Linked DNA regions of Homo sapiens: region 2 is linked to region 1. Evidence: fine-mapped expression QTL. A gene starts in region 1. The other region holds a variant in brackets. All regions are shown on one strand. Distances are from middle to middle.

Region 1 (5,529 bases):
AGGGCTGTGCATTTAGAAATAGGTATGGGAATACATTGTTAAGTAACAAAAAATACTAAGTGGAGAAACTGCTGTTTCAGTTGCTTCTGTTTTTTTCACCTACCTTCATTTCACAAGCTGGTGTTAACAAGTCTTAAGTTGTGCATGGAAAACTTGGGTGAAAACAAGAAGCATATTCTGCAGCAAAAGCTGATTTCCCAAAAGTAGAAATGTCAGTTTTAAACCCTAATAAAATACCCTCTCTTTTGGAAGTGGCTATTACTGTGGGTCTAGCAAGATCACATACCCAGTGCTCAACATATTCACTAATTATGTGGCTGCTGATTGCTTCGATCTTTTTGACTTTTTTTTTTTTTTTTTTTTTTGAGACAGGTTTTTTGCTCTGTCACCCAAGCTTAAGTGCATAGGTGCAATCATAGCTCACTGCAGCCTCTATTTCCTGGGCTCAAGGGATCTTCCCTGCCTCCCCATTTGTATTTTTTTTTTTTTAGGGGCGTGGAGAAGAACCTGCTCCTCAGACTCCATAGCTTTAAAATCTCTCCAAATAGCGTCTCTGTCAACTGGCTGTATCCTGCCTTTACAACTTCTTTACCCCAACATTCTCCAAAGTGGCACTTTATTGAACAGTCAGCTTCCCTTGCAAAGACTTTTTTTCAAGTGCTTCTCCCTGATTCAGATACTTCACTCCCCTTTCCCCGAAAGACCCACAGCAAATTGACACCCTTCCATGAAATTCACAATGCTCCTGCCCTTGCCCAGCTCTCTTAGGGGCAGTATGTGGTCTGCAGCTATGTTCTCTCACATTTATGACTTCCTTGAACATTTAAGAACCTGGTGGTTACTTAAGGAACATTTTAAAAATAAATTTAAATTCAATGGCCGAATACAAATGACCATGAGATTGGAAGTTAAAACCTGTAAAAAAGATAAAAGGTTGGAAGTTAAAACTATAGTTAATTCACCTGAAACAAACATCTGATCCGGACATTTGGCATGATTCTGTTTGTATCAAACGATGAAAAATCGGCCGGGCGCGGTGGCTACTGCACTACAGCCTGGGCAACAGAGCCAGGCTGTGTCTCAAGAAAAAAAGAAAAAAAAAAAAAAAAAAAAAAAAAAAAGATCAAAGCACTTGTTACTGCATTTGAAATCCTGGATAGAAAAGATGTACAAGTGCCTCAACACAGTTCCTAAACTGCCTAGGAATTCTACTGCTTGTGAGAGGGTTTACATATTTTCTTAGCTTGACCTCTAATGGAAGAAAGGTCGTGTCAAGAACTATCCTTTTGGCCGGGCGCGGTAGCTCACGCCTGTAATCCCAGCACTTTGGCAGGCTAAGGCGGGCGGATATCTTGAGGTCAGGAGGTCCAGACCACCCTGGCCAAAATAGCGAAACCCCGTCTCTATTAAAATACAAAAATTAGCCGGGCGTAGTGACGGGCGTCTGTAATTCCAGCTACTCGGGAGGCTGACGCGCCAGGATCACTTGAACCCGGGAGATGGAGGTTACAGTGAGCAGAGATCGCGCCACTGCACTTCAGCCGGGGCCACGGAGCGCGAGACTCCTTCGTCTCAAACAAACAAACAAACAATTCTGGCCGGGCGCGGTGGCTCACGCCTGTAATCCTAGCACTTTGGGAGGCCGAGGCGGGCGGATCACGAGGTCAGGAGATCGAGACCATCCTAACACGGTGAAACTACGTCTCTACTAAAAATACAAAAAATTAGCCAGGCGTGTTGGCGGACGCCTGTAGTCCCAGCTACTTGGAAGGCTGAGGCAGGACAATGGCGTGAACCCGGGAGGCAGAGCTTGCAGTGAGCAAGATCGCGCCACTGCACTCCAGGCTGGGCAACATAGCGAGACTCCGTCTCAAAAAAAAAGAAAAAAAAAAAAAGAATCCTTTTGGAGAGGGAGCTTGTAGTTTAAGTAACTTAAACATCCACGTATAATAAAGCCACTTAGAAGGCGGTGCATTTTCACACGTTCTCAAACCAGGCCTGGGTTTTTCCGCGCAAGCTAAGGCCTCATTCCTACTGGGTAGGAGAGAAACATTGCAGCAAAATCCACACAAAGAGCTCTTTTCACTTGTCCTCAAAACCTCACGGGTCGCAAATCCGGGCTAAACGGCTCAGGGGCCTGGCTGGGGAACTGGGCCGAAGGTGGAACGGATCCCAGCCACCTCGGGGCCAGGAAAAGATGAAGTGTCGCAGGCCCGGCGTCCCCGCCCTCCGCCTGAGGCAACGGAGCATCTCTCTTCGAGTAGCCCATTTTCCAGAGAGTCTCCTCGGCTGCGAAAGCCAGACGAAGAGGGACCCAAAGCCACCGCAGCGGCAAGAGCCGGAGAACCACTGAGGGACAGCGCCCCCTGCAGAGGCGGTTGAACCGCTTCCCACAGCGCTGGGCGGGGCGTCGCGCAGTCCCTGGGCGCTGATTGGGCACTCCGTGTCCCCTCCCCCTCGGCCCGGCGCTGCCTCTGTCTCCTTTGACCTCGATTTCAAGCCATGCGCTGAGCTTCGGTTGGCCCGGCTTCCTTGAGGCGTAAGCTCGGTCTGTCCAATGAGGAGCGAGCGTCGCGGGGGCCGTCGGGAAGGGCGGCCGACCCATATAAGCAGCCTGCGGGGCGTTCCCTCGGGTTGTGGTTGGTGTGCGGGTTTCGGTTGGAGGACTCGTTGGGGAGGTGGCCTGCGCTTGTAGAGACTGCATCCCCGAGACGATGGCGGAGGGAGATAATCGCAGCACCAACCTGCTGGTGAGTCCTGGCTGCCTGTCCCCCGGGAGCCGAGCGAGGCCTCCAGACGTCCGTGGGCTCAAACACCGCGGCCTCGTCCCTGTCACCCGCCGCGGGCCCGGCCCTTCTCTCCCTGGGCAGGCGACGATGCCTGGCCCTCGGGCTTCTTGGGTGACTCCTGGGTGTCGAACCCTTACCTTTCCTGGGGACGGTGCGCGACGGGGCGAGGAGGGCGCGTGATTCATCACCGCGAGTAGGAGTCGAGGAGGAAGTGGGAGGCAGAGGGGCTGCGACACTAGCCTGGGGTGCGGGTGGGGGCAGAAGGCCTCCTGGGGCCTGTCCAGCGCTTTCGCGGCTCAGGCCCCAGCCGTATTCGGCTTTCCCCGTCTTTGATCTTAACCTGGATGTGCCTGCCTTCTTTTCCCCCTAAAACTTGGACAAGGGTGGAGGGTCAAAGGGCTACTGCCCAGAATTTATCTTAGAGCTGGTACAACTTAAAACGACAGGGAGGCTGCGAGCTCACCGTGGGGAACCGGGAGCGGGGTCCAGCTGAACAGACAATGGGATGTCTTGGCGTTTGTCTGGAATTTGGAAGTCTGGCGGGGGTGGGGTCACAGGACTACTGGAAACAGCTTTAGAGTAATAAGCAGGGATCCGAAGGAACTGCAGTGAGATGGTATCATAGGCGGACACATTTTTATTTGTTATGAATTTAAGCGCACCTTGTGGGCAAAAAACAAGAGAAATATCCTTGCATATTCTCAGTTGCCCTTCCCTGGTGACTGTAGGTCACATACCAGCAATGAAAAACGGAACCAAAGAATTTACTTAGGGGCTTTTGAACTTCCAAGACCCCAGACGCTGGCCAATGACGTGACTTCAGGGCAGTTTTGATTGTGCGTGATTTTATATTTGCTTTTAGAAATGCATGGTTTGTTCCTTTAAACACACGCTCCTTCTAGCATAGTTAGTTCTCAGCGTGGATCTTTTTAAGAGGATTAATTGAAGCACAGAGAAGTAGCTCAAGCCCTGTTGAAATGACAAATCCTGGGCTAGAGCTCCTGCTTCCCAACTCTCCTTCCAGCAGAGCAATATAACTCTAAGGAAAGCAACGCCTTTGGTCGTGGATTTCTTGGATGCAGATCAGTTAACCTCTGTATCTGTTTCCTCCTTGGTAAAATGGGGACAGTAATAACACCTTTTTTTAAGGGTTGTTAGGAAGATTAATTGAAGTATAAATATGAATGCTCAGCAGAGTGCCCACACATAGTAGTCTCTTTCACTAGTATTAAGCATGGAATATAAAGTCAGAAATATTGAGATCACACTAGTGCTCAGCGTGGCACAGATAGCGAGCGTCTTTGTTAAGATTAAGTGCCTTGTTCTGTCATTTGCATGATTTCCAGTGAATGACTTTTACAAAGAGACAAGGTCTCAGCCCAGGCTGGTCCCGATCTCCTGGGCTCAAGCAATCCCCCCCGACCCGCCAAGTGCTGGGTTTACAGGCGTGATCCACTGCATCCAGCCTGATAACATAGAGACACTTGAGTTTCTTATTCTAAATTTTTCTTCCTTTACCAAAACCAGCTTTAAGGGCTTTTGCCACATTAGCTCATCCTAGAGGCCCACTTTCGGCTGTTCAGAGTCAGAGAAATTTGAAGTATAATCAAAATGACATCCTGAGTGGTAAGAAACACTGTATTGAGGAGGTATATTGACCGTAAAATGCCACCTTAATTTGGTGAAAGTAGTTTTCCTTAATTGTCCAATGAATGTCAACATCTGAGTGATTCCATTACACAAAGAGCTATTTTAGAAATTGAATGCTATTCAGGGAAAGTCTTTCCTAATGGATTTAGAAGGGTTTAAATCAATAAGATGACAAAAACAACGGATCAATTCTAACCATCTGAAATAAACAAACTTAAAAAAAGTTATTTCATTTTATTAATACTCTGGGCACTGCCACGATTCCCCGCATGACTTTGAGAAAGTAAACCATTTTGAGCTCACTTTCTTTAATTGTAAATTGAGTCTAATTATCCCTACCTTGTGGCTCTCTGTAAGGATTAAGTTACATCATGTATATAAAGAATAGCCCAGTGCTTGGACTAGAAAAGTGACCATTAAAGGATATTTAGGCTGGGCCTGGTGGCTCACACCTGTAATCCCAGCACTTTGGGAAGACGAGGTGAGTGGATCACTTGAGGTCCAGAGTTTGAGACCAGCCTGGCCAACATGGTGAAACCCTGTCTCTACAAAAAATTAGTCGGGCGTGGTGGCGGGCGCCTATAGTCCCAACTACTCAGGAGTATGAGGTAGGAGAATCGCTTGAACCCAGGAGGCGGAGGCTGCAGTGAGCCGAGATCTCCCCACTGCACTCCAGCCTGGGTGACAGAGCGAGACTCCGTCTCAAAAAAAAAAACACAAAAAACAAAAAAACCCATTGTATTTTCATCTTTGAAATTGCAGTTTTTCAGAAACCAACTAGTTTAAAATTGGCAATTTGGTTAAGAGGTTATTTTTTGTATTTGGAGCTTTAAAATAATTGAAGTCTATGAACCACAAAAATGTTGAGAGTGGTAAAATGATCACTTTAAATGTCGGTGGTATTTAGGCTGCAGAGACTGCAAGTCTGGAAGAACAGCTGCAAGGATGGGGAGAAGTGATGCTGATGGCTGATAAAGTCCTCCGATGGGAAAGAGCCTGGTTTCCACCTGCCATCATGGGTGTGGTTTCTTTGGTGTTTCTGTAAGTGAGCTATTAGATTACTATGGGTTGTGCTTCTTATTAATAAAGA
Region 2 (5,000 bases), 98 kb before region 1:
AGGGATTCAGATTAGAATGAGCCAAGGGTAGAGGTGCATAGGGCAGAGTTCGGGGAAGTTCCAAATGTTGGAGTTTCAAATTGTCCTGTCCCTGTAGAGTTGTGAAAAATGATACCTTCCTGGTGGCACTGGTGTGCGACAATACTCATGAATTATTGCCTACCAGGGAAGCTCACTCTGTTTTTTATGTCCAAAGTTTTTACTGGGGTTCCATGGTTGCATGCCCATGTGGCTAACCTTAGTCTCCAGCCCCACTGGAGGTCAAGCTGATCCATGTGACTCAAAGCCCCCACCATAAGTCACATTATTAGACTCTGCTGTGGCCTAAAACCCCCAGATGAACAAGGACACCTTCCCCCCACCGCCACCCCCCCCTTTTTTTTTTTGGAGATAGTCTTGCTCTGTTGCCCAGGCTGGAGTGCAGTGGCATGATCTCAGCTCACTGAAACCTCAGCCTCCTGAGTAGCTGGGATTATTACAGGTGCCCGTCACCATGCCTGGCTAATTTTTGTATTTTTAGTAGAGACAGGTTTCACCATGCTGGCCAGGCTGGTCTCAAAATCCTGACCTCAAGCGATCCACCTGCCTTGGCCTCCCAAAGTGCTGGGATTACAGGTGTGAGCCACTGCTTCTGGCCAGGACCCTCTTATTAGGTATGACATTTCAAGAGTTTAGAGATTACCTTCCAGAATTCACAGGTAAAAGCCAGACCTCTCCTTGGTGAAGATACAATTCTTTACAATTTTACAATAGTTAAGTATATCTTATCAGTCTATATTGGCTGTTTAGTTGACAGACAGTTAAAAATTGGTGACAGTCCAGATGTGGTCACTCATGCTTCTAATCCTAGCATTTTGGGAGGCTGAGGTGGGAGGATTGCTTGAGTCCAGGAAATTGAGAGCAGCCTGAGCAACATAATCAGACACCTGTCTCTACAAAAAACATAAAAATAAAAAATTAGCTAAATGGGGTGGCATGCACCTGTGGTCCCAGCTGTTTGAGAGGCTGAACCCATGAGGTCGAGGCTGCAGTGAGCTATGGTCATGCCAGTGCACTCCAGCCTGGGTGACAGAGTGAGACCCTGTCTCAAAAAAGGAAACAAATCACCCATAAATGGATAATTAAGATTTGGTTATTATAGACACTTAATACTGAGGTAGTTAAACTAGTTTTACCGATAAATTATATTAATTTAATATTTCAGTATTGCAAAACTGATGCATACTCATTTATAATTTTGACATGGAATGGTTCTATTAAATTTGAACTTAAAGTTCTCTGCAAGAAGAGATTTGTATAATAAATTCCCTGAGCCTCTCAAATTAATATTTTAGCCATAGACTCATATTTAGAGCAGTGTTTTTAATGTAATGATACAAGGCCCAGGGTTATTCATAGTTTCACCCTTTCTCTTATTCCTCATTAAAGCATGTTTGAATCCAGGTAAGAGGCATTACAGGGGAAAACCTTGAATTTATTTTTGAAGGGTAAATCATTTTCAAGTGGTATTAACCATTAGTATGGAAAGCAACATATCCTATAACTGCTCTGTGACAGTGAGACTATCTTTGCTACTTTAGAGAATAAGTACATTCCTACTTCATTGGCTTTAGTGCAAATCTCATTTCCTGGTTTATATCCATTATAAATTAGATCTCACCATGAGAGCAAAATCCCTTAATAAACCTAGGTAAAAGCAATTTGAAGTAATATGATGCTTACTCCAGTGACACCACTAGGTATGGTGTTTGCATCAAGTCATTTTGGGGTGCTTTATGGAAATACTTCCTAGTAGGGAATTCCCTGACTTCACACTTTCCAGAGATGACACTCTCTCTCTTTTTCTCTCTAATACTTACAAGAATGGACTGCAAGGCTACATTTAGTCAGGCGATACCATCCCCAGCACATGGTGGATTGTTGGTGTGAGGTCTAAGGATTCTGGTCATTTGAAACGAATGGCCTCCTAGATTTGTGGCATTTTTCTGTATATTGAGAATAGGTAGCTAAAATAAGTGGTAACTATATTTGCATGTGATTTGTATGTTACAGTTAACATTTAAATTCTCTTATGTACTAAAATTTTTTTGGTTGCCACATTAAGCCTCTTTATCCTGTAAGGCACAGAGTGGCTTTCCACCTCAATTTTTGCTTTAATGTATGAACCCTAATGGGACCATAGTTCAACTAAAGGCACCTAACTCATGAATGATATTTGCTCCATGTTTGAACAACAAATGTTTTAACCCACTGTCTTCACTAATATTGTAACTACTGTCTTACAGATTGACTTGATGCAAAACATCACAAAGGCTCCATATTATACAGTATGCGATTTTTGAGGTATGAGCTTTAGAAACTTACCTCTCATGTGGCATGTACATCAGGCTTTAACTTCAGTTTGATCGTT[G/T]TGGGGAAATTTATGCATTTCTTTTTTTTTCTCTCCATGATATTTTTAGAATATTAAAGGGGCTGTAGAGGTATTTTTGGATCATTGCTAGGATTCTTAGACTTAACAGATAGATTTTCTTTTTTCACTAAATTGAGACACTAATTCTGGCAGATGATATCCCTTTCAGCTCTTCTAACTAACTAGCCTAACATTCATGCCTGCTTCTTGGAGTTCAAATCTGCAGTTTCTATTTTGTGGCTTTGATTGCCTCATTTTAAGTGCTCATTTCCGTTCTTTAACAGTTTTCTATTTATTGGACTGGGATGATCTTGTTGGTGCTAACAGCCTGACATTGACATTTTTTGAAACCTAAGTAGTCAAGATTGTATAAAAATAGAAATTTCATATAAATGCTAAAGCATTTTGTGCTTTTAGGTTCAGAATGCTTACAACCTGAGTTCTGGTTGGGGATGCTTTGATCAATTTGTATTAAAATAATTTGGCAACTAGGGAGTTTTTAGGTATTTCTGAGACAGTGGCTCTATTCCAGTTAGTTTTTTTTTGTTATATTTCTGAAAACACAAATTTTTTTTGGGAAAAAAATCTCAGTGTTCATAACTTAGGGGATTTAGAAACCTTATTTCTAACCAACGGGGAAGCGGCTCCTGGTTTTACAGTTTAGTTTGAAATCAGATGCTTCGTAGTTGGAAACACATTGTTGGTAGCAACAGATTACCCGGTTTCTTCAGTGAAGTATTTAAGTTGCTCTATATTGACTGTAAAAACTTGTCTTGATTATATTCATATACTCATGAACTGTTTGTACATTGTCTTTTAGACTGGAAACTGAGTTTATTTTGTATTATGGTCATAATAACTTTTAACATACCCTGCAAACTAAGCGTTTCTTTATAATTCATTATCTTATTTAAGCCTCACAACAACCTTGCATGTTAGGTAGGTATCATCCTCATTTTATGCAAGAGACAACCAAGGCTTGGAGATCAAGTAATTTGTGCAAAGGCACACATACTTTTCAGTGCTGGAGCTGGGATTTGAGCCCAGATCTTTTTTTAACTTGTATTCTCTGCTGCCTTATGGTACTACTGTGTCACCAGAAAGTGATACAAATATTTAACTCTTAATAGTAAAGGTAGTATAGGAGATAAGTAAACATGATGAAAACAGGAAGTGAAGATATGTTTAAATATTGGCAGACTCCATTTATCTTTGTGTTTCCGAATTAGTCAAGTGCTTATTTTATTCGCTCATCTAATAAGAGCTTACTGTGGCATACATATAAAGTTCAAACTCTGTCAGAAAAGATTATAAGCTCTCTTATGTTTCAATCTCCTTTCAGAAAGTAATCGTATGCTATGATTTATATAGATGCATGTTAAATGTGCTATTTTTAGGTACATAAGGAATGTCTTTTCATTAGTTTAAAAAAGTTATGGTCCATTGAGTTAATATTTTAATGCTTATAGACTTAGTATACTCAGAAAATATTCTCATACATTTTTCTTGAAATTCCATAGATTTTATTTTCCCTTATGTTCTAAGTACTTAGCTTTATGAATAAATGAACTCTGAATATTAGAAGATACTCCTTATGGAGCCTTAGTCATTTTAGTATGCTAGGTTTTGAATTTCATGAAGTTTCAGATTGAGATCCTTTATAAGTAATGACTTGTACCAGTTAGATATCCAAGTTTAATTGGACCTGTTGTCTGCATTCTGTATTAACAGTGATTGCAGTAAGTGCAGATCAAGGTGTCCAACTGATTGAGCTCATGCTAAGTTTTATGTTTAGTATTTTTGGAAGCAAGGAAAGACTAATAAACTCTAAACGAAATATATACAGTATACAAACACTGCTGTCACTTTTACACCATAGAGGGAGGGGCAAAGCATAGAGGAATAGCTTAGTGTCTGGCCTTGCCAGTGTCCTAAACTTTTCTAAAAGATTCAGGTTCTAAAAGGTTGAGAAAGCATTTTTAGTAAATATCATAGAAGTGATTTTCTTTTTTTTTTTTTTCTCAAAGTTGTTCCTCTCAGGAGAAAATCAGTAGGGGAAGAACTTACTTGGATTTTTCGTATGCTATAATAGATTATTTTGTTGTCTTCTTTCTTGATAGTTTATGATTGATGGCTGAAAGAGTAACACTCATGAGAAGTCTTGTAACTCAGCTCTGTTTTACTTATGAGGTAGTTGAAGCGTAGAGCAGATACTTAGATGAGGACACACTTTTACCCTTGGCTGTACCCTACTTGTTTACTAATAAGCATCAGGTATTATTCTAAACAGTACCTGAATTTTAAATAGATTATGAACTACAACTTTCTGATATCACTTTATTGCATTTCTGATACCTTTTATTTTCTTAAAATGTCTTCTTTTTTAATTTTTAAAATTCTGATTGCTACTCTTTACAATTAAGGCATCTGCAATGGGGTCTTCAATACTACAGTACCTAATCAGTACTTAGAAAATAACTTGGTAAGACATTGCCCGTCCCTGACATGCTGCCAGTGTTTTTTATTTTTATGACAGGAAAGGCTGAAATTTTTTGACTGATTAACCCTCTCCATGGGGGAGAATTTAGAA

Evidence for each region.
Region 2: its variant is fine-mapped to the expression of ARL6IP1 in whole blood (INTERVAL, PIP above 0.99).

What each region holds. Positions count from the first base shown.
Region 1 is chr16:18,798,652-18,804,180 of GRCh38, reverse strand. It overlaps ARL6IP1 (ARL6 interacting reticulophagy regulator 1), which reads left to right and starts at 2,632. Exons shown (of 6, transcript NM_015161.3): 1 at 2,632-2,750; 2 at 5,347-5,480. The coding sequence starts at 2,715. RefSeq lists enhancers at 2,089-2,328, 2,709-2,788, 3,009-3,128.
Region 2 is chr16:18,897,330-18,902,329 of GRCh38, reverse strand. The region is part of intron 1 of SMG1 (SMG1 nonsense mediated mRNA decay associated PI3K related kinase); the gene reads left to right. Among named protein-coding and RNA genes, the nearest start is that of SMG1-DT, 26 kb to the left of the region's middle. The variant G/T (reference allele first, on the strand shown) is at 2,411.